Regions from separate parts of the Homo sapiens genome. Here regions 2 and 3 are each linked to region 1. The links come from fine-mapping of genetic effects on gene expression. A gene starts in region 1. Each other region holds a variant in brackets. All regions are shown on one strand. Distances are from middle to middle. Region 1 holds the start of C4orf33 (chromosome 4 open reading frame 33). Region 2 has its middle 47 kb from the start of C4orf33. Region 3 overlaps SCLT1 (sodium channel and clathrin linker 1).

Region 1 (10,746 bases):
CATGCACATGTATGTTTAATGCGGCACTATTCACAACAGCAAAGACTTGGAACAAACCCAAATGTCCATCAATGATAGACTGGATAAAGGAAATGTGGCACATATACACCATGGACTATTATGCAGCCATAGAAAAATATAAGTTCATGTCCTTTGCTGGGACATGGATGAAGCTGGAAACCATCATTCTCAGCAAACTATCACAAGAACAGAACACCAAACACCGCATATTCTCACTCATAAGTGGGAGCTGAACAAGGAGAACACGTGGACACAGGGAGGGGAACACCACACACCGGGGCCTGTTGGGGAGTGGGGGACTAAGGGAGGGATAGCATTAGGAGAAATACCTAATGCAGGTGACGGGTTGATGGGTGCAGCAAACCACCATGGCATGAGTATACCTATGTAACAAAACTGCACGTTCTGCACATGTACCCCAGAACTTAAAGTATAATAATAAAAAAGAAATGTTATTTCTACATACTAGCAACGAAAAATCAGAAACTGAAAGTAAAAGAATAATACCATTTACAGTAGTATCAAAAATTTCAATACATAGGCATAAATCTAACAAAAGATGTGCAAAACCTAAATATTAAAAACTACAAAGTATAGCTGAGAAAATTTAAAAAGATACATCAATGATGTACAGAAGAACCAATTTTATTTTAAAACTTACTATAAAGCTGCAATAATTAAGACAGTGGGGTACTGGTGTCCAGACAGACAAATAAATCAGTGGAAAAGAATAGAGTTCATTAATAGATCCATACATATATAAACAACTGCAAAGGAGCAAAGGTAATTCAATGGAGAAAGGGTAGTTTTTCCATTTGGGCATCCAATGCAAGAAAGTGGCCTGGATCCTTACCTCATCCCTTGTATAAAATTTAACTGTATGAACCATAGATCTAAATGTAAAACCTAAAACTATAAAACTCCTAGAAGAAAATATAGAAGAAATCTTTGCAGCCTTGGGTTAGGCAATGATTTCTTTTATGACACCAAAAACACAATTCATAAAAGAACAAATTGATGAATTAAATTTCATCAAAATTAAAAATGTTTGGCTCCAACACTATTAAGAGAATGAAAAGAAAAAATAAGTCCATCACCACTCTGCCAGTGAGTCTCACACCCCACTAATGAATGAATTCTTAGTTCCTTAGATTGATAATGCAAGTACCTCTTTGAACAGGTTCCTAAAAACTAACTGATCTTTCCCAGACAAAGGTGGAAGAACGGTGCACAGCAAATATGCTACAAGCTTACTCTACTAGTAGCCTGGTTGAGTGTGGAGCTGCCTGTCGTTATGATATGTAAAGCTGAAATAGTAATTATCAGAGGAAATGTCATGTGGGGACATGAGAGTTGAGAAGTACCAAACATGAGTTGAGAAGTACCAAAACATGAGTTGAGAAGTACCAAAACAAATGGTCTTGACCTGGGCTCCCAAATCCAAACGGAACAAAGAGACAATCAAGATCAACAGAAATCAGTGTAGAAAAAGTCAGAGGCAGGTGGAAAGAAGGCAAGTGATCTATCTTTATCTGGGCTGGTATTTAGGTGGGTCACTTAATGGAATAACCCACCACCTTCAAATGGCATGCAAAATCCGGTTAAAGAAAAAAGGAGAGCGACACAGACACTCAACTCTCATTCTTATCTCTTCATGCAAACGCTACCATTCTATGCTCCGATTTCCTGAATAAAATCAGTTATTTTAAGCCTTTGAACCATTCCTTCTTCTGCTCCTTCTGCTTGAGATTTCCTTCTTGCACTCCACTTGTCTTCCATGGAACTATTAAATACCACTCATTTTTAAAAAAATGTTACTATGCTTCAGTTGTCTTATTTGTTTTCCCCTGGTATTTGGATCTCAGTTTTATCTAAGAATTCTGGCTGGATCATTCTTATAAAATTAATAGTTTCTGACCACCTCAAGTACTATCCTGACTCTAGCCAAACTCCTCATCAACCAATTCCTGTCCCACACTACTCTTACGGTGGCCAGTTAGCTGTTCTTATGGGGTGGGGATATTCCCACTGCAAACCTAAGAAATAATGCTAATGTTATTGTGTCATTATAGTGTCATTAATTATTTTAGATAACATATACCATGCACTTAATATGTGCCAGACACTATGCTCAATGCTTTTTCATCATCTCATTTAAGTCTCACAACTTCAAGAGGATTCTTGTGTTCTTATACTCATTATATAAATGAGAAAACTGAGGTGCAGAAAAGCTAGGAAACTTGCTCGAGGTCACAGACCTGGAAAGAGGTAGGCTGTGAGCCCAGACAGACTAAATCCAGAGGCTGACTGAGTTCTTAACCACTGGTCTATAATGCTACCAAAACGGAACTTACTACCTTTTTCCTAACTTCCCCGTTGCTCAAGCAAAAACTAAGTTGCTCTCTACCTCTTTCTCTCAAATCCCCTGATCTCCAGTCTCCCTGTGCCCAACTTAGTTTACTTCTTACCTGAATGATGACAGTAGACAACTAACTGCACTCTGCTATAATGCATATTCCCCGTAAAAATCAGACCGGGCCTTCTAAACTACAATTTGATCATGCCACTCTCAACTGAATTCCTATAACCCATGCAATGGTCCATACTCCTTAGCACAGAGAAGACAGGGCCCTTCACCATCCAGCCCCTTTCTACGCCTTCAACTGCACTTGCCATTTCCCTATATAAATATTCCAATTCAATTTACATCAATATTACACTCAAACCAGCCGTATTGCAAGTCTTTAACAAAGCATATTCCTAATCCCCTCAGTGTCACAAATATTGTTCTATTTGGGATGCCTAGAGTTTTTCATATAGTAAATTCATATTTGTACTGCACGTTTCAGCCCAATAGCACCTTCCTTGAACATATTTTAATAATAATCGTGTAATAGTTAATATTTGTTTAACACAATGTATCAGATACTATTCTAAATCCTTTACATATTTTAATATTCATTTAATCTTTCCAACAACCCTATGAGACTGTGGCAAAAGAGCCAGCAGTTGCTGTCACTTCAATATATTTTGGAATACATTTCCCTCCCCAAATTAAATTCTTGGAGGTAAAAACTGTCCTGTTTATCTTTGCAGCAGCTGTTCTTCCATAGTGTCTGGTACATAATAGAAACAGGAGTTCAATAAACATCTTTTTAATAAATGGCCAGAGAGCTGTGCCCCTAGATTTTAAATGCACACTTGGAAACTCCTGCTGGCCATTAGCCTTCTAATCTTCAGAGCACGAGAGGAGCATAACAAACATGTTTAGCGTCTAGTAGAATTCTGTGTAAGCTACAAGTACTACCACACGGTTCTGCTTAAATATACACACATCCTCACGTATAACATCAAGGTTTTTTTTTTCCTGCAACTAACTTCTTTAACTCTTTACCAATTTAAATGTACCCAACCAGCATTCAAAAAAGATTTGTCGGTCAACGACGACGATATTAAACATTGTATATGAAGTCTCAAAAAAACATGGAGCTTACTTTGCTCTCTCAGAAAGTCGATTTCTGCAGCCATTTCGATACAATTTTAGTTTAGAGCTTTCACCACCTTTACCTTCCTCTGAAAGACAGAGAGCTTGCTGTGCGGGAAAACAAAACTAAGCCAACGCTCGGTTGGTTGTCAAGCGCTCCAGCGGTGCAATCTGCATCCTACTCACGCGGCATCTACAGCCCCGCCACGCTTCTTTCCCCCGCGCCCCAGACGAGTCCCTGGCCCTGGTGAGAGACTGAAGATTGCTGGGGACTCCACGTTCAACCGAATCCCACGCTGGTGGGAAGAGGACGCGGTCGATACAGGCGTCCCGCGGGTCACTCTGGGTCTCGTCGGGCCACCTAGGAGAGTGCCGCGGGAGCTTGACGGCAGCCTGAGAGCGGCGTTCTACGCGGAGCGGCGGGGGTTGGAGAGGACAACGCCAAGACGGCTGGGAAGCCCCAGGCCAGCAGCGGAAGTCCACTCGGCCCGCCCTGCGACTTTGAAACCGGTGCCCCGGACCACTCCTTGGAGACGGTGGCGCCTCTTGCGTCATCACGCGGGCGTTGGAGCTTACGCCATCGCGCGTCCTAGAGTCCTAGCACGCTATTGGCTGGCTGTCAAGCAATGGGAGGAGTCGTGAGAACCTGGATGACAGCGGGCTGAGCCACCGGCTTGGCGCGGCGGCCAAACTGGTGGGACAGTGTCTCCAGGTAGTGAGGCCCAACCTCTTTAAAACAAACAAACAAACAAACAAAAAACCAAAATGCAAACGTGAGTAGAGAATGAAATACACAGTTTAAATGCCCTCACTATCTTTGGGTTACTAATATACTAAGCCTTTCTGGACTAAGTAAAAGATGCAGGTTCCTGCGGCTAGGGATAGAAGCCAGACTGGCGTCTTCAGAATCTCCCACCAAGGCTGTACCTCTGGAGGAGTTCTAGGTTTGGATTTGGTCATCTCAAGAAGGTAAGTACCTTCTCGGTCTTTGTGGGTCTTTAGACAAAGGAGACAACTGTTGTTTAAATATTTAACTGTGTAGTAATAAAGCGTGTAGTTAGAAGTACTCAAAAGATCTTGCAAATTCAGCAGCTACTTCTTCAAAGATAAGCTTGTTTCCTCAAATATAAGGAAAGATAAAAGGTACTTTTTTTTGCAAAAAACAAAACGGTAAAACTTACATTTGTGGATAGATTACAATTTTCATTTTTGAAAATTAATTTTGTCTGGACTTAAAACGTATTTTTTTAAAAAAAATCATTTAACATTAGAGGAAATCTCACCACTAGCAACAAAAATGTTAACTTGAAGCTAGCCACTAGTTTTGTGCTTTTAATAAATTGTATTTTTATGGACTGAAGTAAAGTTTCACTAAACAGGCATGTCATAGATGCAGCTTGATTTGGCTTTCTGTTTAACGGCTTAAGAGTTTTGTTGTCCCGTACTCATAATGTCATATAAACAAAGTAACCTTAGCGATATGTGTTAAGAAATTTTAAAAATGTATTCAAATATATGCAGTTAGGCATCTGAAGGCCTTACTCAATACTCACTGTTAATAGAATGAGATGGTCCCTTCCTCTAAAGACTAGCTGTTAAATATGGATGTGTAGCTTAATAATCATTGAAAAGGTCTAATCCAGCTTTGAGTTGGTGATAATTGAACTTGTTCTGATTTTTAGTAGCTATAACGTTTACACAAAAACTTTTTGTATAAACGTTATAGCTAAGGGAAAATTGAGTGTGCAAGGTCCAACTCGTTTTTGAAGTTCAGTATATGACTCTTTCTTCATAAACATCTCACTGACTCTCCAAGGACTTGCTTGTAACTTCTCCCACATTTGAACCTTGTATATTGTCGTATTTCTACTTGGCATCAAATAAATAATTATAGACTTAACTCTACGCTTACACCCAAACTGGATGGAAGCAAATACCTTCTGGCTATAACTGATGAGTGGTATTTACATAAAGTGAATATCTCAGGTGAAAACTTTTATGTCTGCACTCGAATTTTTTAGCTTACATGATCATAATTATGATCATGATAGTTTTTTGTTTTTGCGTTTGTGTTTGTGGTTACAAGATTTTAGTAGTTGAATTTTAATGGAGTATTTTCAACATAAGTTTCATCATTAGGAAACAAAATTGTGATGATTTCACTTATCCTTAAAGGATCCCCTCTCATGTTCCTCCTTTTCACATCTCCTGAGTTCTTTATCCACTTCTCCCAAGGTAGGTGCCACCTTAGTACTTACTTCATGCTCCTTCCTGCATTATCTGTCATGTTTTGTAGTTTGTCTCCAGGCTCCATCATAATACCTGGAACACAGAGTTGATTAAATATCTGATGGAAGGAATGAAAGAATTCAGTGGATGTTCATGAAAAGTATCTATTAGTATAAATTGAATACAAGGAATGACAAGCAGAAATGTATGTAGTTTGTGTGTAACTCTTGTCAAGCCACCATTTAATGTTTTTATATGACTTTTCTGCAATAAAGAAAACCCCTAAAGTTGTATAGATTGAAAATTAGTGACATTTCACTAACATTCATTTGGTTGATCAATTGACATTGAGCACCCAGTACTATGTGCAAAGTACCAGGAAGAATACAAAGTTAGAAGTTTAAGCAAGGATCAGAACAGATCACACAGCTGGCAAGTGCCTGAGTTGAGATTTGAACCCAGGCAGTATGGTTCTAATTTCACAATTGTTAACTGCTATGAACATGCCTCCCCAGGAATATAGTATAATATAGTTTATAGCTGGTATAATATAATTTATAGTTTTTGCTTATATGGCCAGTTAGCCTTTAGTTGTATTAAATGAAATATTTCTGTACATGTTATATTGTAATCTTAATGATTTACAGTTGATTTTCAAATTATTGCACAGTATTTATATTTCTGAATCACCCTTCCTTCTTCTAGGAAACCACTCATACTTTAGTGGAACGATTAGAAGTCTTCAGTTGTTCATGTGTGGCCCTTCAACATCTTTCTTTCCTAGAAAAATCAAGCGTCTTAGCTTCAGTGTTCTAAGCCCCTCCCCCAGAACGTGTAGGCAGCTGGGTGGAGCCTAAAGCCGAGCCCTCTCCTGTGACCTCGGCTGAAAAGAAGAAGCCAGTGTTTGAGAAAAGCTTCGTGGTCTGTGTTCTCTAGTTGTTCCCTCTTCTCTCTGACATTCCTTTCGTCGTCGCCAGGTCTTGTTTTTCGCTTGATCTCTGGAAAATACTGAAAAGTATTTTACTTTTCAGCTGTCTCCTGCTAAGTGAGCGTACTCCCCCTTTCAGGCTGACTTCCTCATTTCTCCGTTTCCCTGATAAATGGGCGGGGCCTCGGGGAGGTATGGAAACTGAAAAGAAATCATTATTGTAGAAAAACTAAAGAAATTTTTGTTGAGCAGAGGAATTTGGAAATTTTCCTTGCAGATCATTTGGTTGAGAAAACACCTTTACCATAACTTATTTCTTTTAAACTTTGCGGACATTTTTTCTTTTCCTGGGTTCTTAATGCTCCAGTGTTCGGTCTCCTTTCTCTTCCTTCGTTTCCTTTTAGAGGTCTTTCCAGGTAAAGATAAAGCAATCAGAACAATTGAAAATTTATTTTTTTAACTTGTTTTAAGAGCAATTTGAAGAATAGAGGTTAAAAGTAGAAACATACAGAGTAACAATAAATATTGTATTAAGAAAGTCTAAACAGCCAAACTTAAAATTGCATTGCAGGACAGTAATCATCTTGATAATATGCATTATGACTTTTCGGAAACGTTCAGCATATATAATATAAAGGGGAGAAGAGGCAGCCACCATACTCTTTTTAAGAGAACCGGCCTTAAATTAGACTTAAAATATATATATTTTTTTGAGACGGAGTCTTGCTCTGTTGCCAGGCTGGAGTGCAGTGGAGCGATCTCTGCTCACTGCAACCTCCGCCTCCGGGTTCAAGCGATTCTTCTGCCTCAACCTCCCGAGTAGCTGGAACTACAGGCGCGTGCCACCACGCCCAGCTAATTTTTGTATTTTTAGTAGAGACGGGGTTTCACCATGTTCGCCAGGATGGTCTCGATCTCCTGACCTTGTGATCCGCCTGCCTTGGCCTCCCAAAGTGCTGGGATTACAGGTGTGAGCCACCGCGCCCGGCCAAAAAATAATTTTAAACTGTTCAGTTACCTTAAAATAGTAATGCATGTCTGTCATAGTGTAAAATGCAGATAGGTTTTTAAAAAGTGATGAAGTTGAAAGGAAGCCTTCCTCCTTCCCATATCTGCAGGCAGATAATTCCCTTCAGGGAAGCAACCACTGTTACCACTCGTTTCTTGGATGTTTCCTGAGATAGTGTATGCCTCACAAGCATATATGCAAATAAGCTTCCTTTTTATTAAATAAATGCACCTTGCTTTTTTTCACTTCACAACATATTTTAGCATAGATGTTAATTCAGAGCTGCCTCATTCATTTTAGCAGTTATACAGTGTTTCATTGTATGGTATAGCATAATTTTTTTTACCAGTCCTCTACTGATGGGTATTTAAGTTGCTTCCAACATTTTGTTATTATGAACAATGCTACCACAAATATCCTCAACGCTTATGTCATTTTGAATATGTGCAGGTATAGTAACTCCTAGAACTAGACTTATTTTTGTCAAAGGATAGTTGCATTTTTATTTTGATAGATATTGACGTATTGCTCTTCACAGAGGCTATATCAATTATGCCTCACTAGCAATAAATGATTTTTTTCTCAATGCCTTCATTAACACAGCTTGTTGTCAGACTTTCTGATCCTTGCCAATCTAAGTGAAAAATGGTAATTTATTGTGGTTTTAGTTTGCATTTCTGTCATTATAAGTGAACATTTTGCATTTTCTCTCCGTGAACTGGCTGTTCATAATTTTTGGTCACTTTTCTGTTGGAGTGTTGGTCTTTTCCTTATTGATTTCTAGGAGCTCTTTGTGCATTAAAGAAATTAGTTATTTGTATCAAGTATGAATTGCATATACTTTTCCCCAGACTTTTGATTTTGTTAATGATAGGCTTTTGGAGTAAAGGGAACTTGGGAAGGAGGTTTTTGCTTTTTTACTATTATTTATCTATTATTAAAAAAATTCAACTTTTATTTTAGATCCAGGGTATATATGTGCGGGTTTGTCACATGGTTATATTGCATGATGCTGAGATTTGAGGTACGAATGATCCTATCACCTGGGTAGTGAGCATAGTACCCAGTAGTTAGTTTTTCAACCCTTGCCCCTTTCTTCCCTCCCCCCTCTAGTAGTCCCCAGTGTCTGTTGTTGCCATCTTTATGTCCATGAGTACCTACTGTTTAATTTCCACTTATAAGTGAAAATATGTGGTATTTGGTTTTCTGTACTTTCATGAATTTGCTTAGAATAATAGCCTCCAGCTGCATCCATGTTAGTTTTGCTATATTTATGTAGTAAAATGTTTGGGTTTTGGTTTGTATTTTAAAAGGTTTTCTCTACTAATGCAGGGAAAGCCCAGATTTGGGGCTCAGCCCAGGAGAGTTCTTGGCTTCATGCAGGAAAGGATTCACAAGCTAAAGCAAGTTTATCAGAGCAACAAACTACAGGAAAATGGCTGCTCCATAGACAGAGTAGGAGCAGCAGCTCCCATGAATTGTTGGCCAGCTGTATACATACAATTCCCTGGTTATATGCTAAATAAGGGGTGGGTTATTCATGCATTTTCCAGAAAAGTAGGAAGGGTTCCCAGAACTGAGAGTTCCTCCCTTTTTTAAACCATATAAGGTAACTTCTAGGAGTTGCCATGGCATTTGTAAACTGTCATGCCACTGTTGGGAGTTTTTTTTTGCATGCTACTGCATTATAATTAATGTATAATGAGCAGTGAGGGCAACTAGAGATCACTTTTGTTGCCATCTTGGTTTTAGCTGGTTGTGGCCAGTTTCTTTGCTGCATCTTGTTTTGATAAGATTCTGTTTCAATCAGTGGGACCTTGGTGCTCAGAAAACAAGCCCAGCTCATCTCCTACCTTACTACTATAAGATTTTATTTAACTCTCTTTTTATTTCCTGTTTTTATATGATTTTGATTTTTATGTTTAAATCTTTGATTCATCTAAAACTTACTTTGGTATAAGGATCCCACTGAATTAAATTGGACTGCAAAATGAACCAACTGATGTTGGAAACGGGTACCTCATTGATTAGTTACATGAGAACCATCCCAAACTCCTGTAGACTTATTATATATTATTTCCCCAGCACCTGGTATGGTACCTGAAATAAGATGAGTGCTTAATAAATGCTTGATAAACTAAATTGAAGGGAATTTCTGGGCTTATTATCTTTGTTATTAGCCATTGTATTGATCTGATATGTAGTGTTAAATGAGATGATGATACCACGAACACAGTAGATTTCTCCTGCACAAAATCTAGAGTGTTAGATCCAGGGACTAGAAAAATTATTCACTCAACAAATAAATAGTAACCATCACTTATAGGCATTCTAGCTGGGTTCAGGGAGTCAATAAACAAATATGTAATGCCATGTAATTGCCATGTAAGAATAGAAATAGAGCAGTGTATAGGTTAATAGAGAATGACCAGGAGGGGAGCGCTAGCCCAAGAGGTGAAGGACATTGACAATTAAGTTGTCTTTACTTAATGAACACATGTTCAAATACAAAGAAATTGAAAGGTTGTGGGGGTTAAATCTCAGAAGATTACAGAGGGAGAATCATCTGTCTCTAGTTTATGTTAGTTTTAAACTAGACTGTTAACTACTGGGCAGGACGGACTATACTTTTTAGGTTAATTTTTATAAATATTATGCATTCTTAGATTGACGTCAGTGTTCTTTAAGCGATATAAAGTTTAAAAAAAAAAACAAATTTGTCATTGCAATAAGAAACGAAAGTTGTTTATGCAATTAAAGCCAAAATTATATTCTGTCTTTGGACTGATCAGCCATGCACTATTCCCTACTTGTGGAAGTCTAGTCACTATTTTTTGCAGTAATTTTCAAATAATGCTCAAAGAAACCTTAGGGGGGAAAAGCAGAAGGAACCAGTAGAAAGGTTTGAGGTACTCACTACCTAATTCTTAACAATGGTAACTTTGCTTTTATCTTTTACTTCTTATCTTCCAGATAAAATTACATTTTGAAGTAATTTGAAACCTATGCAAGCTTGTCCAACCCAAGGCCCATGGACTACATGTGGCCCAGGACAGCTTAGAATGCAGCCCAACA
Region 2 (10,746 bases), 48 kb after region 1:
TCTTTCTTTCATTTTTTTTTTTTTGAGATGGAGTTTCACTCTTTTTGCCCAGGCTGAAGTGCAATGGTATGATCTCAGCTCACTGCAGCCTCTGCCTCCTGGGTTCAAGTGATTCTCCTGTCTCAGCCTCCTGAGTAACTGGGATTACAGGCATCTGCTACCATACCTGGCTAATTTTTTTTTTTTTTTTTTTTGTATTTTTAGTAGAGATGGGGTTTCTCCATGTTGGCCAGGCTGGTCTTGAATTCCTGGCCTTAGATGATCCACCCACCTCAGCCTCCCAAAGTGCTGGGATTATAGGCATGAGCCACCGTGCCTGGCCAGAAGCTGAGTTTTCTAAAGCAGGTAACCTCATGGCACGTCAGGCTAATTTATAGGACAGGTCTGGACCATGAGACAGCAGAGCTGAGAACAAATACTTGGCAAAGGTATGTATGCATGGGAACACTCTTTTAGTGAATGACTTCTCCCAGACTGCTGAAAGGGCCCCCTTCCAGCAGTAAGATACACTGTTTGCAGTGTTTGCACTAGCTTATCGTCAAGCTGCAGCTCTTGGAGTTGGCTTAGGAGCTGCTCTTCATTATGGGACACCTTGTCCTGTGCGTAGAGGTATTCAGGCATTATCCTCTGTCGACCCAGGTCCATCAATGCAACTTCCAGGGCCAATGACGGGTAGGACTTACTACTGTCTGGGGAGCCTGCAGCCACAGGTACATGTTGGTACACAGGGGGTCTGCTTTCATTCATATCTGACATCTCCAGATAGCCGTCATCATTCAGGCAGCAGGCCTCGGTCAAAGTGAGAAACAGGCAGCCAATGGGATCGGGGGTGGCCCACCTGGCCCTCCAGGTTTGTGATGGTTGTCGTTCCTCTCTGCAACAATTCTTTCTTCTGATGCTTGCAGATTTCCAGTTGCCGCTGTTGCTGCAGCTTCAGAGTATTAATAATGGTCACTGTGAGTCTGAGGGCCTCTTTTGGATAACCATGGGAACGTAGGGAATCAACCTGAGCACAGGCTGTAGGCACATGCTCAAGGCACAGTGGCTGGCTTGGGGAATTAAAGAGTACTCTTTCACTTTCCTGCCGGCAGGCAGGAGCTGTGTAAACATCACTGCTGATTATTCGCTGTAGGTGGCTGTCCTGTCAGTGTAATTCATGGCCCTCAATGGCCCTTGTGAATATCGTTCATCTTGGTCTGGATAAGGAGTCTGGGCTGTGAATGGCATTCTGGGGAAGTGCATTGGTGATGTTGGACAGCTCATGTCCATAGTTTCCATCCTCCAGGGGACAGACATCCAGGTCGCTCCACTTCTGCAGCAGCTGCAGCCAGCAGGATTTCTCCTCCAGTTTGCAGTGTGGATTTAAAGTTATGCACACCCATAGAGCCCTAGCTCATGCCAGAGTTGCCTGACTTTACCTGTCAGGCTTGTTCCTTGCTGACTCCAGAGTGTGAGTCATGGGTCAGCCATAAACTGGTCAGTTATTAGCATCAGTATCCTTGCTCCATTGGAATCTCTCATCCACAGCATTTCTCGAACCTTGGCAAATATTGAGTTGAGTTGCTTTCCAGAGCCATACTAAGCCCCCTGGGAGAGAAAAAGCTTCACTTGTTCTTTCACCTCTTCTTCATCCAAACGCCAACAGTTCTCATTGTTAATGCTGGCCCCAGCTGTGGGGTCAGGAGCACTGTTCACTTGGTTGATTTCTGAGTTGGAGGATAGAATCTCATCTGCCAGTTTCTGTGCGGTAGGAAGAACTTCAGTGTGGTGGTGTGCCGTGATTAAATATTCAATGAACTTTTGTAGCTGGTCCCTATTCATCTGGGAAAGGGTTTCAGAGATCAGAAGACACAAGGTTTTCTCTTCTTAAAAATTAGGAAATAAACAAAAAGTTTATTTTCTTTTATTAAAAACTGAGTTTAAAATAATTATGATACTCATGGACACTTATATTTTCCCTTATAGTCTTTACATATTAAATACTTTGACGGCTTTTTATTTTTATCACCATTACACATGGTTAACTTGTTCACTTGAAAAGAAGAACGGGAAAAAGTTGCTGTCCTGGAGAACATTCTTTCCACTTCTGCATAACCCACATTTAACTTCTAAAACATTAATTACATTTGCAGTGAGGCAAACAGAAAATGTTAGAAGGGCAGTCAAACCTTATGTATTAGGGATAAGCTGGTGGCCTTTTAGTGCAGAGAATGCACAATTATGCTGTCCATTGCATATTATTTTTCATTAATGTCTTTGAAGCAGCTCTAACAATGCAGAGCAGCTGATTGTACCTCCTTTAAACTTTCCCTCTCTCCCCCTTCCAACTGACCCTATGCCTCAGGTCACAAAATTTTTCACTGCCTATTATTGCAGAAATATTTTCACTGGCAATTCCAATGGTGAAGTCCAATTGCAGTGGTTCTCAATTGTACCTCTTAAAACTTATAACAGCATGGTTGCCATGTGCTTATAGCTGAGGAAATAATGGCATTCTAAATAGTTATCCAACAGTTTGTTCCAGATCCATAATTATGTATACCAAAATAAATCCATCTCAATTTAATGTGGGGTGATACATAGCTTTACATATGTAGTTGAAGTCTTTGTGAAAGCATGCAAATACATGTATGACTTTAAGTAACTTTGACAGTTATCCTAGCTGAGCACTATCAATTTGCTAAAATTATTTTAAAATACTTATCATATACTTATCATTTAAACCTTGAATGTTGAACTCTTATCATCAGTATTTCCTGAAATGGCATTTAGAACCATTTGATCGTGGTGTTTTTCTAGGACATTGTTTCTTCCTGCTTTTTGCCACTAGATGGAAGAAGCAGGTTAACAAAATGATATTTTTGGTGCTTCATTCAACTCTACCAAGAAACACCACATAACTGTGTTTAAAATACTGACAACCTCAGCATGCTTTTATTTATCTATTTTTACTGCATTATTCTTTTTGCGTGAATACTGGATCTAAGAACTGTATTTTTGTAGAGGTTAATTTTCTTTTTATTATTTTGATTACTGGAAATTTCAAAAGTAACCAAGAAAGAAAACAATTGCCAGCTGGAAGAGGAAAGGTAAGAATTATATAAAAACATCCATAACAGGTATGCCACAAAGTAATTCTTAGCATGCATTATTGCCAAGGAAGCACACAGTATTGCCCTTGTTGAAGACAGTGGACTAGGTGCTGTGAAACACACAAGAAATGACTTGGGTACAGCTCCTATTTATAAAATTTTTACATTCTAGAAGAGAGCTAAGCAAGAGGTAAGCCAAATGAATTTACACATACTCTTAGAATAAGGTAGAGATGGATAAATATCAAAATCACAGATATAATATTTGGGATGTACATGGTAGGTGGGGAGGGAGGTTTGGAATATCACTTTTATCTGAGAACATCAGGGATCACTTCAGGAAGAAACTGGATCCTTGAAGTAGGAGGGACAGAGAATAGCATTACAGTGATAGAGGCAGAATGAACAAAGGCACAGAGGCAGGAAACGACAATTTAAAAAATATTTAAAGATGAAAGGATAGTACATTTTAAAATAATTTAAAAGCTTGCGTAGAGAGGACATTGTAAGTGGTACTTTTTAAGCAGATGATAGATACAGGAAGTATACTTACAAACTAAGGTACCATCTAAGAGAAGCACCTTAGATGCTGGGAAAGTGAAGTTTCAGCTTGGAAATGGAAGGTCACCCAGGTTGAAAGAACCTGGAAATGGAAATTCTAGCTTCCATTTGATGCCAGTGTTTTATCAGATGTAGGCTTACTGTACACATGGTTCTATCAATTGTTGGGAAGATTCCACAAGGGAAATATACGTTTTGACTTACAAAGGCAGCTTTCTGTGGCTTCTATTCACCTTCACTAATCTTAAGCATGCTTAAAAGAAGACAAAGGTGGTAAACATTGTCATTTGACTCCAAGAAACCAATATTTAACCCGTAAGGCTGCATGTTTTACTATCTACCTCCTTACCTAGCAGTATATTCATATGGATGATCAAAGAATTCTATTCCAGCCACTAAAGGCAATGATCTTGAGCCCTGATATTATGAGTGGCTATAAAATTATCCAGCTTTTAAATCCAACCACAGAATGTGATTTTATGACCTTCTGTGGAAGTGTAGCTATAGGTTAACTAAAGGTTATGAAGTAATATTTCCTTTTTATAGTTCTGAATTCACTGGCTTGTAATTTCAGAGATCACCTTGTTCTATAGTGGGACAAGCTTTACAGTATTATAATTTTGTATAACCCAATGAAGACCTTGTAACTTTTTCTTTTCCGAATTCAGATTTTTACATTTTTCCTATGATATTGTTTGTATCTAGTTCACCATTTTAATTGCTAAAATTACACATAGGAGACTATATAATTTTTTTGGCTCTGGAGTAAAGACTTTATATAATTTTAAGTCTCATTTACGTACTTTGTTCTATATCTTGCTTACAAGTAAGATGTAGTTAAAACTTAAATATTATTTTACATCTTACTGGGTAAAAATGCTGTTCATTAAATCTTACTTAAATTTGATATATGTGTGATACTATATAGGATTATTAGATTACCTAAAAATTATATATATACTTTTATATAGATATCATTTCAAATTAATAAATTTTGATTATAAACCTCACTTTTTATTATAAAAAGTAACTTGTATCAATAGTTCTCTCTATATGCTAATTTTTCTGGATTCAAAGTAAATATCCTAGTGATTTTAACATACCTACATCATCCATGTTTGAACCTAATTAAAGTTAATAATTTTATTTTGCTGACCCTTCATATCCTTTATAAAATATAAGCTGATTGTCCTACTAAGAGAAGATGCCAGTTTGATTTTACGATATTTTCTGCCTATCTACAATTAAAATCTTTAAATATCATAACTCAGTGGTAGTATTAGATATAAAAATATATAATTTCAAATGGATTTGTCAGAAGGATAAAAAAAATGGCCACAGAAACCTACATGAATTATTGCTTATCTTTTAGGGCCCTGTATATGTAGGCAAGGTAGCGAATAGAGGCAACTATTTGAAAAAAGGTGGGCAAAATGTAAAATCCTACAGTTGAAGAAATGATACAGCAAGGAGTTTTTAGCCTACAGAAATGATACAGCAAGGAGTTTTTAGCCTACTTACCCAAACTGTGTATTTACATTGATTCTATTGACCTAATATAATCGCACAACTCTTGTAATTCTTTGCCCTTATAGATGAAAGGGGAACATCTTGAAATAAAATTCTCTAATTCTGATACAACTCAGCCCTAACTTTAATGTTGCTTGGTTTCCTATTATTCTGATTTGAAAATCATTAGTAATTTTCCTGTAGAGAGTTTTAAAAATGAAATCTGTCAGAAAAAGGTTATATAGCTGAACAAAACCTGTCCATTAAAAGAGTGTTATCTGCTCCTTTATTGACTTTTAGAAGTGTATTTCTTTCAGTTTAGAGAAATTTGATTTTGCCTTTCAGGAATCATACCGTTTTTGGCCAAATAAAACCTCTTTGTTACTATAGGTTGTAGGATATTCCTCTGTGGAAACCTAATTTAAAAAACAAAAAACAAAAATCAACTCATTGGGTCAAATTCTGTTTTATGTAGTGCTGGCATAAAGTGGGAATTTCATAAATTTAACAGAAAGCTGACTAAGCAGTTGAGAATTTGGTAAGCATCAAGCTATTTTAGAATACACCAGCAGTTGAGCATTAGGGTGTCTACAAATGTTTTTTTTTTGTGTGTATGTGTGTGTGTGTGTATATATATACATATATATTCATATATATATGAATCTTGCTTAAGA[C/A]GTTTCATACCAGAGAACATTTGATTACCAGAATTTTAAAAATGTCTTATTTGTCCACACATACTCATTTTTATTGTGTTTCATACATTTTCTGGTTAACATTTGATATTTCCAAACTACATAGCAAAACAAGTGAAATTTCATACTAAATTTAAAATTATTTTGACATTTTGAACTTTTACTGAAGGTGACAGTTTTACTGAAATTTGCGAGTTGCTAGAAGAATGCCTTTGACCATGTTGGGATGTTAGAAAGAACATAATCTATTTATAAAAAGAGGAAAAAAATAAATAGAATACATTTTAAAAATCATTCTAATTCTATTTCTAAGCAAAAGTAGCTCAGAGTTAGGCACAATTTGGGAATGTTTAGGAGCAAATGAACAATCATACCACTGACTATATGGAGTTTTAAACTTTTTTGCACACAAATTTCTTCTGCTTTTACGATGGGATAGTTTTCTAAATGGCTGTTTAGACCAATGTTTTATCATAATTTATTCTTGGCTTTAAATTTTGTTTTCTTTTCTTTAGTCAGAGTCAGTTTGGTTAATTTTCTCTACATAATGGGGAATGAATAATTTAAAAGACTTGAATGTATTCTGCACTAGGAAATTCAAGAAGTATTATGTTGTAGCGAGAAAATAGAGTTCTATTGAATTGAGTTCAATTGTATTCTTTAAGATCCTTTTGTCTTATAAACATTGCATAAGAACCATTGGAAATAAAGACTATAACTTTGAAAATAAAACCTTACCAGTGTAGTTAGGAGAAATCGGGATAGAAACAAATAATTAATAAATAAAATAAATTTGGATTAAGACTTCAGATTTCTCAGAGTGTTTTGGTTTTTCTATACATCTTCCATAGTGATTTTTCTAAAACATAAAACTTGTCAGTAAATTCCCTGCTTACAACCTTCAGTGGTCCACATGGCTTCAGCATAAACTCGAATGTCAGCTCAGTGATCTGCACCCCTTCTGCCAACATCACTTCTTTCATCACGCCCCATCCACCATGTCCCTTATGCTCCGTTTATCTCCTATCTCCCCTCAGCTATCTCATGGTTCTGGGCTTTTGTTCATGCTATTTCCTCCATTTGTAACATAACTGTTTCCTTTCCTGTTCTGTTCCTGCACATCCTGTGAGGTCTTTGCTGGCACTCCCGTGTTGGAGGCGGAAAGAGTGAGGGTCGTGATCAACTCAGTATACCACTGGAGGCTACATGAGTAAGCAACAAACTGTTCTCATAAATGCAGAATGTTGGCAAACTGACAAACTGCGTCTGCCGCCCAGAAAGACTGCTGAGGTCAGTCACAACCCAGGCGCAAGTGGTTCCTACGATTAGGCGTAATTGAAGCCTGTTAGTAACAATATGAACCTGTGATCAATTAAGCAGCTGACCAATCGTTACCTCCTCCTCCCTGCTCTTGTTACCCAATAAGGGCTGTAGATGCTTAGGCGGCTGCCTTTGCTCATTAGAAGCAGGGAGTCTTTCTTCTCTCCTTCTCTCTTCTTCCCCATGCTAGCCTTTCCTTAAAATAGTTACTTTTGTCTTAAGTTTTCATGTCTTCTTTAAAACAGTTTCTTTTGTATTAAGTTTTCATTTCTGCGTTCGTCCCTTCCTTCAGTCTTGTAATGACGGTCCCAAGCAGTAACAGTAGTAACTGCTATAGTGACAGTCTCAGGTAGTAACCCTGGCAGTCAGCCACACTCTCGCTCTTGCAGCTCCCACCATCAGAACTAGAGGCCCCGTGCTCTGTGTGCCCCTACTTCTATTAAGGCACTTTTCATGCTGTTTTCTCACATGTTGCTCACAGTTGTGTGTTTTTCCATTAGATTGTGAGTCATCTAAGTCCAAGGGACAGGTCTTGTTTTTGTAACTTCATCATCTAGAACAAAAAAGTCATGATGTTTATTAATTGATTAGCACTTGCTAAGCATTCAATATATACCTAGGTCAGAACAACATTCTATTACATTTTGGGAGGGTACATAAAAGTCAGCAGCTAGCATAGAATGTGAGCAATAAATGCTAACTGAGGCGATTACTTTCAGCTTTCAAAAAAATTGAAATTAAAATAGGCAAAATAAGCATCCATAAGATAGTTACATTAAATATATGTATTTTCCTTTCTTGTGCAGCTCAAGTTCCAGGAGGCTTTTTTTCTTTTCTTTTCTTTTCTTTTTTTTTTTTAAGACGGAGTCTCACTCTGTCACCCAGGCAGGAGTAGTGCAGTGGCGCGATCTCGGCTCACTGCAAGCTCCGCCTCCCGGGTTCACGCCATTCTCCTGCCTCCGCCTCTCGGGAGTAGCTGGGAGTACAGGCGCCTGCCACCACACCGGCCTAATCTTTTATGTTTTTAGTAGAGACGGGGTTTCACCGTGTTAGCCAGGATGGTCTCGATCTCCTGACCTCGTGATCCGCCCACCTTGGCCTCCCAAACCAGGAGGCTTTTCTGACTACTACAACTCATATTTATCTCTATGTTTTTATTACTTTTCTGTGTATTCCAATCAGGTTCTTAATGCTTTTTTGAACTGTTCATTAGTTTGTAGATGTGCATTTTGTTTTTTTCCCCTAATAATAAAGATTATAACTTTTTTAAGGGCAGGGATTACATCTTTAGCTCTTTGACTCTCCTTTATAGAACCTAGTGAGCAGCTGCATATAGTCTATTCTCAAAACTTGTTTGTGGAATGAATAAAAACATGTTTATGTTGGTAAACCTTGTATGTACTGCATAGGTAATGTACCTGTATTAAGTCACAACAAGCAATTCTTCAAAATTTTTTTTTGTAGAAATTTTGCTATGGGTAAAAACATTTTAATGCAACTAATAGAATTTTAAAAAATGCAATGAAGTATTCGTTGCCTTGAGGATATTGGTAAAAATGTTATTTGAGCTTAATTACATCAAGACCAAGGGAACAAGAAACACATTGCTTCACTTATATCATGGTATTTGATCTCCTGTCTCATTTTGGTAGTTGGAATATAAAACTACCACAACATGGAACAGTACACCAGTGATACACAGGCCTGTAACTCTCACATTTAAACCTGGGGCTTGAGGCTTACTAATGGAAGTGAATGCTCCAATTTTCAATGATCCCCCAGCACCATCAGGGGGCACCAGGGCAACCTTTTAATGAACTCTAGAAGTATGAAGGTTAGAGATTTTGTATTTTGAGTGCCAACAGTGAGAAAAATGAAGAACACACATTATGATATGCGGCCATGTTTTCTTACAGTAGCTATTATTTTTCTCGGAGTTTCCAAATACCTCAGCTTATTCAACATGAGTATCTGAAAAATTTAATGACTCAGAAAGCTGGGCCAAAGATTGTGTGAACCGGAATTGAGATTTTTGGAATGAACAGTCTATATTTGATAAGCATGTAAGAAAATTATCCATGAAACAATATTAATTAGTAATTCATGTGAAAATGTTAGTCCACATAGTCAATACAGATAATTGTTTTATTTCAGGTATTGAGTGGTATTTGCAAAGCACTAAATTTAAATTGACAGTGTTCTTTGAAGTTCTAGGAACTATAAGTTAAAACTGTGCCCCTTTAAAAATTGTACAGCAGTATTGTGATGCTTAGTTCTAACAAGTTATCTATAGCTTTTGAAGAAAGATTTTAAATGTAGATATTTTGTGTTTTTAAAATTTATGGACTTCACTGACTAATTTAGGGAAAATTAGGTGACTGTTTCAGAGATTCATAATATATTGGAACTCTGCCTGTGAAGGATCCAGTCAGTTAGCTCCCTTAAATATACCTGTCCCTATAGTATGGAGTAAAATATTTGCAAACTGCATAGAACAAAAGACTAATGTATAGAATCTATAAGTAATTTAATAAGAAAAAGGCAGACAAAGGATATGAATAGGCACTTCTCAAAGGAAGACATAAAAGCAGCCAACAAACATACAAAAAATTGTTCATCATACCTAATCATCAGAGAGATGTAAATCAAAACCGCAACGTGATACCATCTCACACCAATCAGAATCGCTATTACTGGAAAGTCAAAAAATGACAGATGTTGTCAAAGTCATGGAGAAAGGAGAACCCTTGTATACTGTTTGTGGGAATGCAAATTAGCTCAGCCCCTGTGGAAAGCAGTTTGGAGATGTCTCAAAGAACTAATAATAGATTTATACCATTTGAGTCAGCAACCCCATTACTGGGTATATACCCAAAGGAAAATAAATTATTCTACCAAAAAGACACCTATAAGCATAGGTTTATTGCAGCACTATTCACAACAGCAAAGACATGGAATCAAAGCAGGTGCTCATGAATCTTGGATTGGATAAGGAAATGAGGTAATTATGCACCATGCAATAGTATACAGCTATAAAAAAGAATGAAGTAATGTCCGTTGCAGCAACATGGATGCAGCACAAGGCCAGTATCCTGAGAAAATTAAAATAGATAAAAAAAACCAAATACCACATGTTCTAACTTACAAGTGGGAGCTAACCATTGGGTGCATGTGGAAACAAAGATGAGAACAATAAACATTGAGATTTCCAAAAGGGAGGAAGAAGGAAGTGGGGGACAAGCATTGAAAAACTACTTATCAGGTATCATGTACATTACTTGGGCAACGGGATTATTAAGTGCCCATACTGCAACATCATGCAGTATACCTGTGTTACAAATAAGCACATGTTCTCCCTGAATCTAAAATAAAAATAATAAAATGCTTTGTGGTATAATATATATTACATTATATTACTAGATGATATATAATTATGTATATATTATATATATATATATATATATAATGTCTACAGCTGAGGTTTCTTGACTTAAAACTCAGAACCTTCCAACATATGATGATACTTTGATTTGAAAAAATCCATTTCTTAGGCTACTAGAATTTAATCAGTA
Region 3 (10,746 bases), 89 kb before region 1:
TACATGCTTATGCTCCTACTTTTTTTTTAAGTCTCAGTTTTAATTTGTAATACAATAAATACTGATAGATATGTAACCCACAAAAAACATAAGGCACCTTGGAGTACACTGAGGTATACCATGCATTCAGAAAATGAACAAATTGTACATTTTTATAAAGCAAGTGCGCTTATGTAACCAGCACCCAGTTCAAGAGAAAGAACATTACCATCACCTAGAAGCTGGACGACCCTCTTGTGATCTCTTCCAGTTACTATACTCTTCTCCTAAATAACCATTTCCTCGTGTTCCTAACACCATAGATTAGTTTTGTCTAAAACTTAAAAAAAAAAACAAAAACTGTAGGCTAATTAAAAATTTTAAAAGCGGTTTTAAAATTTGTAGATAAACACAGAATATGGAGCCAGAAGATATGGGTGTGATCTCTAATTCCTGGCTAAATAGTCCTGGATAATTCACTTCATTTCCTTAAGACTCAAGTTTTCTTTTCAGTAAAATGGTCGTAAAAATGCCTCATACCTCAAAATGTCCCACTGTTTCTCCAGACCTGTCTGACGACAAAAATCACCTAGACTAGTAGTTACACAACCCAGATTCTCCTAGAGCAGTGGTTCTTAAAGGATCAGCATCATCAGCAACACCTCAGAACTGTTAGAGATGTAAATTATTGAGCTCTTTCCCAGACTTCTTGAATCAGAAACTGGGGTGGTGGGGGGGTGGGGAGGCACAGCAGAAATCCATGTTTCAAAAAGCCCTCAAGTGATTATGATGTACACTATATAATTTTTAAAAATGGTACAACTTACTATTTGGACAAACTACAATTTAACTGATTCCATATTTAAGATTTTTAAACTATGTCAAATGTTTCATTACGATAAATATTATAATGAATATATTTATTCAAAAATTTTTATATTCAGTTCTTTAGAACAAATTCATAAAATCTATGTGGTGTCATCATCTAATTACTGGATCAAATAATGCAAACATTTCTAAGGCTCTTCTTCCAAACTGACTTCTAGAAAGATTTCTACAAATCATACTGTAACAGAAAAAATATTTTAAACTGAAAATATTAAGCTAGGTACTTAGCATTGTGCTATTGCTATTGGCTCCTAAAGCAACATATATACACTACACAGCACCTTTTGTACATAATTTTAATTCTTATTTGTGAGTCTTGCTGTTCAATAATGATAATAATGATAAATAGGCAAATTTATTAACGTACATATGTGCTAGACATATAAGCCTAAATTAATTTCTATTTAATCCCATGAAATCAATTATAAATCTTTCCTAGTCTAGAACAAACAGCATGCTTTCCTCATTATTTCTTTCTTTCATCATATTTAAAAATTCTTTCCATTCATACATTAAAAAAAATTAGTGTTAAATACATGTTCCTTATCAAGCTAAATATAGCCTTTCTGACTTACCTAAAATATCACTTTCATAATTATAGAATTTTAAAACCAAATTTTCAGGAAATAAAACCGAATTTTCAGATAATTATCAAATCAAAATTGTAATTTAGAATTTGTAGCCCCCATTTATAAATGAGGAAACTGAGGCACAAGAGTTTTTTTCTATGATCACACACCTGGAAAGTAGAAGAATGGGGATTTAAACCCATACAAGATATGAAACATTTGGGATATAACACTGTAAATTTAAATACAATTCCCTTATGAATAAAATTCACAAAAAATTAGTTGAAAAACAGGATATATTTAACATAGCTGCTCAAAGATTCTAATTACTATGAGAGAAAAAGAAAAAGTATAATTCTAGAAGAAATATAATGTTAGAAAAATATAGTACTCTTAATATTCTGAAAACAATATCAGAAAAAAGAACACTGAAAAATACAAATTTAGAGAAATAATGGATTTTTTCCTTTAAAAATTTTCATTGACATTAAAATATTCTCTCTACAAAGAACTTAAACAAATTTACAAGAAAAAAACAAACCCATCAAGAAGTGGGCAAAGGAAATGAACAGACACTTCTCAAAAGAAGATATTTATGCAGGCAACAAACATATGAAAAAAAGCTCATTATTACTGGTCATTAGAGGAATGCAAATCAAAATGACAATAGAATACCATCTCATGCCAGTTAGAATGGTGATCATTAAAAAGTCAGGAAACAACAGGTGCTGGAGAGGACGTGGAGAAATAGGAACACTTTTACACTGTTGGTGGGAGTGTAAATTAGCTCAACCATTGTGGAAGACAGAGTGGCAATTCTTCAGGGATCTAGAACTAGAAATACCATTTGATCCAGCAATCCCATTACTGGGTATATACCCAAAGGATTATAAATCATTCTCCTATAAAGACACATGCACATGTATGTTTATTGCAGTACTATTCACAATAGCAAAGACTTGGAACCAACCCAAATGTCCATCAATGATAAACTGGATAAAGAAAATGTGGCACATATACACCATGGAATACTATGCAGCCATAAAAAAGGATGAGATCATGTCCTTTTCAGGGACATGGATGAAGCTGGAAACTATCATTCTCAGCAAACTAACACAGGAACAGAAAACCAAACACTGCATGTTCTCACTCATAAGTGGGAGTTAAACAATGAGAACACATGGACACAGGGAGGGGAACATCACACACCAGGGCCTGTTGTGGGGTTGAGGGCTAGGGGAGGGATAGCATTAGGAGAAATACCTAACATAGATGATGGGTTGATGGGTGCAGCAAACCACCATGGCATGTGATACCTATATAACAAACCTGCACGTTCTGCACATGTATCCTAGAACTTAAAGTATAATTAAAAAAAAAAAAAAGAAAAAGAAAAAAAAGAAAGAAAAAATATTCTCATAAGAAAAAAACTCACGTCAAAATCTTTATGATTTTAATTAAACACATTTGTAACAACCAGTGAGGGTATTTGGCAAGTACGTTTCTAACAGTGAGGGTATTTATTACAAGTGTTGCTACCTGTAACGATTCTTATAAACTGTAAAAAATCATAATGTTACAATTTTATTATTTTGTTATCCATAAATAATGATTAACATGAATTTTTAAAAAGGTATGTTAATTCAGAATATAATTTTTAAAAATACATGTCACTCACTTGATTGGCTAGCTGCAATTGTTCTTGAAGGTTTCTGACTGTTTCATCATCTGCATATATGTCAGTTCCTACCTCTGTGCCCAGGGGAAAGGCCTCCAATTTTTTTTCAACAGCATCTTTTAATTCACTGTGCAACCTTTGAAACAAATAGTTAACATGATAGCCTCAAGTCATTTTCGTAACAGTAATTACTGTTTCGAGGTCAATTAAACATTTGGGTCAACAATAACTCTTTAAACAAAATCATTTTTAAGTAGACTTCAAATAAAAAATTAGAAGTGTTTAATTACCATTAAATACTGTGCTATAAGAATCAAAAGATTATATAACAATTTCAATGCATTAAATCGATCACAATTAACTGAAGCATGATTCAGTTTGTCCTAGAGAGGTTTCAATTTTTCAAAAATTTTCAAAAGAGTAAAATTCAGATATTATCTCTTATTAAATGATAAAATAAGCCATTCAGAAAAATTCTAAAATATCTATGTATATCTAGTCAATTAAATGAAAATTATATATTAAATCCTGTAGAATTATTTGCTATTTTCTTCAGCGTGTTTCACCAAACTCACTGGACTTCTTACTAATTCCAGTTAACAAGCAAAGAGAAGAAAATGGTCGCTGGCTATAAAACCAAGACATCAGAAGCTTTATTTTTCAGCACATCCTTATATAAGATCAACAATAATACTGAAAGGCTTAAAATTGACTTTAATCTTAACATTAAGGTAAATTACAGATATTTCATGCCTTAACTACAAAAAAAAGCAAGGAAGGTACAACTTAAAAGAATGATTGTTTTAATTTAAAATAATACATACTTAAGAGAAAAAAAGTACATTTTCAGAAAACACTCTTATTTCATATAATCATAAGCAGAAAATATTTATAGTAAATACATTACAAAGTGAAAATAACAAAATAAACTACATCCATCTACCTAAAACATTTAGAGGTGAATGATTTACTAATATTACAAATCTCCTTTGAAACAAGAAAACTTAAATCTTGATGTCAAAACATATTTATTGAAAACAAAATTCATCAAATACAATAAAACTGAGAAGGTAAACACTTTAGAAACAAAAAAATTAATTACTCTGAAGAAAGGACAGAGCTTGAAAATTATTCTCTAATTAAAAAACTTACAAGTATTGGTTAAGACAGTTTTTATTTTTAAATATCTAACAGTGTTTTTAAAAACTTTTATTTTTCCTATATGAAATGTTTACCTAATAGAGAAAATGATCAGTATAGAAATATAACAAGTTTTAGAAAAGATACCCCAAGTCCTATGAAAAAAACCATTATTAATTCTGTAATATATTTTCTAGCAGAATTTTTACTTTCCATTAAAAATAGACCAATGACATACTGTATTGCTAATACTATAATCTGTCTTTTTAACCGTAGTATTCAGACATATGCATTCTCTCACATTCTAAAAAGTTTTCTGCAAATATTTTAAAGATGACATAATATTCCATCATTTTCATCATATGGTTATCTGCATCATAACTTATCAATTATCCTAATCCTTTAAATTGATTGTAAAATGAAATGAAAAAATAGTAAAATTAATATTTAGTACACTGTACTTTAAAATATCAGAAACACTGAGAATTAAAGTGTCTTATTTCTTTGTTACGCAGCCAAAAGACACATGAAAAAATGCTCATCATCACTGGCCATCAGAGAAATGCAAATCAAAACCACAATGAGATATCATCTCACACCAGTTAGAATGGCAATCATTAAAAAGCCAGGAAACAACAGGTGCTGGAGAGGATGTGGAGAAATAGGAACACCTTTACACTGTTGGTGGGACTGTAAACTAGTTCAACTATTGTGGAAGTCAGTGTGGCAATTCCTCAGGGATCTAGAACTAGAAATACCATTTGACCCAGCCATTGCATTACTGGGTATATACCCAAAGGACTATAAATCATGCTGCTATAAAGACACATGCACACGTATGTTTATTGCGGCATTATTCACAATAGCAAAGACTTGGAACCAACCCAAATGTCCAACAATGATAGACTGGATTAAGAAAATGTGGCACATATACACCATGGAATACTATGCAGCCATAAAAAATGATGAGTTCATGTCCTTTGTAGGGACATGGATGAAATTGGAAATCATCACTCTCAGTAAACTATCGCAAGGACAAAAAACCAAACACCGCATATTCTCACTCACAGATGGGAACTGAACAATGAGAACACATGGACACAGGAAGGGGAACATCACACTCTGGGGACTGTTGTGGGGTGGGGGGAGGGGGGAGGGATAGCATTAGGAGATATACCTAATGCTAAATGACAAGTTAATGGGTGCAGCACACCAGCATGGCACAGGTATACATATGTAACTAACCTGCACATTGTGCACATGTACCCTAAAACTTAAAGTATAATAAAAAAAATTCATTTAATAAAAAAATGTAGTTATAACAAGCAGTATAATTATAACTGACAGTAAGACAGTTTTTAGGGTCTTAAAATTTTTAGCCAGGTTCGGTGGCTCACACCTGTAATCCCAGCATTTTGGTAGGCCGAAGTGGGTGGATCACGAGGTCAGGAGTTCGAGACCAGCCTGGCCAATGTGGTGAAACCCCGTCTCTACTAAAAATACAAAAATTAGCCGGGCATGGTGGCGTGTGCCTGTAGTCCCAGCTACTCAGGAGGCTGAGGCAGAAGAATTGCTTGAACCCAGGAGGCGGAGGTTGCAGTGAGTCAAGATCAAGCCACTGTACTCCAGCCTGGGCGACAGAGCAAGACTCTGTCT[CA/C]AAAAAAAAAAAAAAAAATTTAAAGGTCACAGAAATATCGTAATTGTCCCCCATTGATTATTAAGATAATTTTGTACAGTTTCAGCTTGCAAGGTCATTTTTTTAATCTTACACTTCATACAAAGGAAGGACTACCTATACATAGTTTAATTTTGTTTGCTTCAGTATCTGGCATACTTGGGGAATAGATGTCCAATCTTGCGTTTCTAATGCTTGCTGTCTCTCACCGAGTGTGCTCTGTTCCCGAGGTGTTATATGATTTTGGGTTTAGATTGCTGTTCTTTTTCTAACCTCTTCAACAAATTCTAAGACATCATTATTTTTAGACTTTCTTTTCTAATACATACTCTTAAGATTACAGCTTTCCCTCTAAGAATCGCCTTAGTGGCAACGCCGACGTTATGTTATTTTCTTTATTAATCAGTTGAAAATATTTTCTAACTTCCATTGTGAGTTCTTTGACCTGTGAGTAACATTTAGAGGCATACTGCTTAACTTAGAAAAAGCTGAGGATTTTCTAGTTACCTTTTTATTATTGATTTCTAGCATAATTTTCACTGTCATCAAAGAACATAATCTGAATAATTTCAATCCTTTTATAATCTGAGAGTTGCTTTTTTTTTGAGTTGGTCAATTTCAGAAAACTATCACGTGTACTTAGAGAATGCATATTTTGAAGGTCTTCGGTATTAGTATTCTATATATGTCCCTTAAGAGATTTCTTAATTGCATTATTCAAATATTGCATCTTAACTTACTGTTTTTTTTTCTGGTTGCTATTTTATTTACTGAGAGCAACCTGCTCATATTTCCTATTATAATGGTGCATTTGTCTGTTCTGCCATTCAGTGCTATCACATTTTTGTATTCTGAGTCTTTGTTATTGAGTGCTTACACATTCAGAACTGTCATATCTTTTGGGCAAATATAATTTCGTATCATTATGGAAACCGCCTTTTAATCTGTAATCATCTGTTTCACATTAAATTCTACTATGTCTGATATTACCAGCATGTTTTCAGTTAGCACTTCCATGGTATACATATTTTCTATCCTTTTATTTTCACCCATTCTGTACTCTTGTATTTTACGAATCTCCTTGGTTAAAAGCATGTAATTGTGGGTTCATTTAGTTAATCTCTGGTAAATCACTCTTAAAATTATAGCATGTAGTACAGCAAAATTTAATGCAATTACTAAGGCATCTGGGTTTATATCTACTACCTTAGTATTTCCTATATGTCTTGACTTTAAAAAAACAAAACAAAACACCTCTCTTTTTGTTCCTATTCTTTCTTATTAACTGGAATTAATTACATTTTATTATTCCACTTTCCTGCTCCATGAGCTTGGAAGTGATAGAATCTTTTAGTTTACTGTAGTGCTCAGCCCAGACATCGTAACATGCCTCTGAGAATTGCCACCCTCTACTATAAATTAGTATCCTATTTCTAATGGATAATGTAAGCACCTGAGACTATCTCAACTCCATTTACACTCTTCCTAAATGTACGGTATTGCTGGCTCATATTTCAAGTCTCCTCAAACATTTTAAAGCCATTATTATTATTTTTAAAAGTTTATACTCGTTAGATTTTCTCCCATATTTACCCCTTCCATAGTTCCAAACTTTATTCTAGGATGATTTTTCCTTCTTTTTTGGGATTTGGATTAATTCTGTCAACGGTAATTTTCTCAGTTTTCATCTGAAAATGTACTTATTTAACCCTCCTTCTTGAAGAACATTTCGCTGAGCACACAATTCTTAGTTGACAGTTTTGGTTTCTTTTCTTTTCAGCACTTTGAAGATATTCCATGTCTCTCGATTTCTATCACATCTGTTGAAAAGTCAGTTATCTTACTGCTATTCCTTTGAGGATAATCTCTGTTGTGAGAATTTTTCTTTGATTTTGATTTTGTAGATGTTTTTGCATTATCATGCTTGTGATGCATGGTGTTTCTTTAATCCACAGATCTTTTGCTACTTTTGAAATTTTTCAGCTATTGTCTCTTCAAATATTATTTCTGTCTTTCCTGTTCTCTCTGGGATTCAAATTACACGAATTTTAGTTCTTTTCACTACCACATTTTGTTCCATATTTTCTTTTTAAATTTTTTTGAATTTATTTTTTACTTAACTTTTAAGTTCAGGGGTACATGTACAGGTTTGTTATATAGGTAAGCTTGTGTCACTGAGGTTTGTTGTACAGATTATTTTCAACCCAAGTATTAAGCCTAGTACTCATTATTCTTTTTCCTGATCCTCTCCCTCCTCCCAGCCTCCACCCATTGATAGGCCCCAGTGTGTGTAGTTTCTCTCTACATGTCCATGTGTTCTCATCATTTAGCTCCCACTTATAAGTGAGAACATGAAGTATTTGCTTTTCTGTTTCTCTGTTAGTTTGCTAAGGATAATCACCTCCAGCTCCATCTATGTTCCTGCAAAGGACGTGATCTTGTTCTTTTTTATGGATGCATAGTATTCCATTGTATATATGTACCATATTTTCTTTATCCAGTCCACTGTTGATGGGCATCTAGGTTGATCTATGTCTTTGTCATTGTGAATAACTGTTCCGATGAACATGTGAGTGCATGTGTCTTTATGGTAGAATGATTTCTATTACTTCGTTATATATCCAGTGATGGGATTGCTGGGTTAAATGGCACTTCTGTTTTGAGTTCTTTGAGATCCAAGCCGGGCGCGGTGGCTCACGCCTATAATCCCAGCACTTTGGGAGGCCAAGGCAGGCAGATCATGAGGCAGATAGAGACCATCCTGGCTAACATGGTGAAATCCCATCTCTACTAAATAAATAAAAAAAAATTAGCCAGGCATGGTGGTGGGCACCTGTAGTCCCAGCTACTTGGGAGGCTGAGGCAGGAGAATGGTGTGAACCCAGGAGGCGGAGCTTGCAGTGAGCTGAGATCGCGCCACTGCACTCCAGCCTGGGCGACAGAGTGAGACTCTGTCTCAAAAAGAAAAAAAAAAAAAAAAGAATCCAAACTGCTTTCCACTAGTGGCTGAACTAGTTTCTGTTTCTACCAGCAGTGTAAAAGCATTCCCTTTTCTCTGCAACCATAACAGCATCTGTTATTTTTTGATGTTTTAACAGCCATTCTGACTGGCGTGAGATGGTATCTCATTGTGGTTTTGATTTGCATTTCTCTAATTAAGTTGAGCTTTTTTTCATATGGTTATTGGCCACATGTATGTCTTCTTTTGAAAGGTGTTCAAGTGCTTTGCCCATTTTTCAATAAGGTTTGATTTTTATTGTAAATTTAAGTTCCTTATAGATGCTGGATATTTGACCTTTGTCAGATGCAGTTTGCAAAAATGTTCCCCCACTTTGTATGTTGTCTGTGCACTCTGTTGATAGTTTCTTTTGCTGTGCAGGAGCTCTTTAGTTTAATTAGATCCCATTTGTCAATGTTTGCTTTTATTGCAATTGCTTTTGGTATCTTCTTAATAAAATCTTTGCCCACTCCTATGTCCAGAATGGTATTGCCTAAGTTGTCTTCCAGGGTTTTTATACTTTGGGGTTTTACATTTAAGTTTTTAATCCATCTTAAGTTAATGTTTGTTAATCTTCTGCACATGGCTAGCCAGTTATCTCAGCACCATTTATTGAATAGGAGTCCTTTCCCCATTGCTTGAGTTAGGTTTGTCGAGAATCAGATAGTTGTAGGTGTGTGGCTTTATTTCTGGGTTCTCTATTCTGTTGCAATGGTCTATGTGCCCGTTTTTGTACCAGTAGCATGCTGTTTTGGTTACTGTAGCCCTGCAGTATAGTTTGAAGTCAGGCAGCATGATGTCTCCAGCTTTCTTATTTTTGCTTAGGATTACCTTGGCTATCTGGACTCTTTTTTCGTTCCACATGAATTTTAAAATAGTTTTTTCTAGTTCTGTGAAGAATCTCAATGGTAGTTTAATAGGAATAGCATTAGATGTATAAATTGCTCTGGGCAGTATGACCATTTTTACAATATTGATGCTTTCTATCCATGAGCATGGAACATTTTTTCATTTGTTTGTGTAATCTTTGATTTCTTTGAGCAGTATTTTGTGCTTCTTGTAGAGAGATCTTTCACCTTCCTAGTTAGCTGTATTCCTAGGTAGTTTGTGTGTTTATTTATTTATTACAACTGGGAATGGGATTGCGTTACTCATTTGGCTCTTGGCTTGACTGTTTTTTTGTGTACAGGAGTGCTAGTAATTTTTACACATTGATTTTGTATCCTGAGAATTTGCTGAAGTTGTTTGTCAGTTTAAGAAGCTTTTATGCCAAGACTATGAAGTTTTATAGATATAGAATCCTGCCATCTGCAAATACGGATAGTTTGACTTCCTCTCTTCCTATTTGGATTACATTTCTTCCTCTTGCCTGACTGCCCTGGCCAGGACTTCCAATACTATGTCAAATAGGAGTGGCGAGAAAGGGCATCCTTGTCTTGTGCCAGTTTTCAGGAAGAATGTTTCCAGGTTTTGCACATTCCATATGATGCTGGCTGTGAGTTTTTCATAGATGACTCTTACTATTTTGAAGTATGTTCCTTCAATACCTAGCTTATTGAGACTTTTTGACATGAAGAATGTTAAATTTTAATGAAAGCCTTTTCTGCTTCATTTCAGATAATCATGTAGTTTTTGTCTTTAGTTCTGTTTATGTGATGAATCACATTTATTGATTTGCATATGATGAACCAACCTTGCATCCCAGGGCTAAAGCCTATTTGATCATGGTAGATAAGATTTTTGCTGTGCTGCTGGATTTCATTTGCCAGTATTTTGTTGAGGATTTTTGTCTCTATGTTCATCAGGGATATTGGCCTGA

Evidence for each region.
Region 2: its variant is fine-mapped to the expression of C4orf33 in thyroid (GTEx, PIP above 0.99). The same link has a PIP of 0.9 or more in esophagus muscle.
Region 3: its variant is fine-mapped to the expression of C4orf33 in whole blood (INTERVAL, PIP above 0.99).

Annotation. Positions count from the first base shown.
Region 1 is chr4:129,089,555-129,100,300 of GRCh38, forward strand. C4orf33 (chromosome 4 open reading frame 33) reads left to right here and starts at 6,598. Exons shown (of 6, transcript NM_001099783.2): 1 at 6,598-6,655. It overlaps SCLT1 (sodium channel and clathrin linker 1), which reads right to left and starts at 3,985. Exons shown (of 21, transcript NM_144643.4): 1 at 3,516-3,985. The coding sequence starts at 3,549. RefSeq lists an enhancer at 3,680-4,249.
Region 2 is chr4:129,137,887-129,148,632 of GRCh38, forward strand. It overlaps the pseudogene ZSWIM5P3. Among named protein-coding and RNA genes, the nearest start is that of C4orf33, 47 kb to the left of the region's middle. The variant C/A (reference allele first, on the strand shown) is at 5,837.
Region 3 is chr4:129,000,627-129,011,372 of GRCh38, forward strand. SCLT1 (sodium channel and clathrin linker 1) reads right to left here. Exons shown (of 21, transcript NM_144643.4): 6 at 3,115-3,250. Among named protein-coding and RNA genes, the nearest start is that of SCLT1, 88 kb to the right of the region's middle. The variant CA/C (reference allele first, on the strand shown) is at 5,911.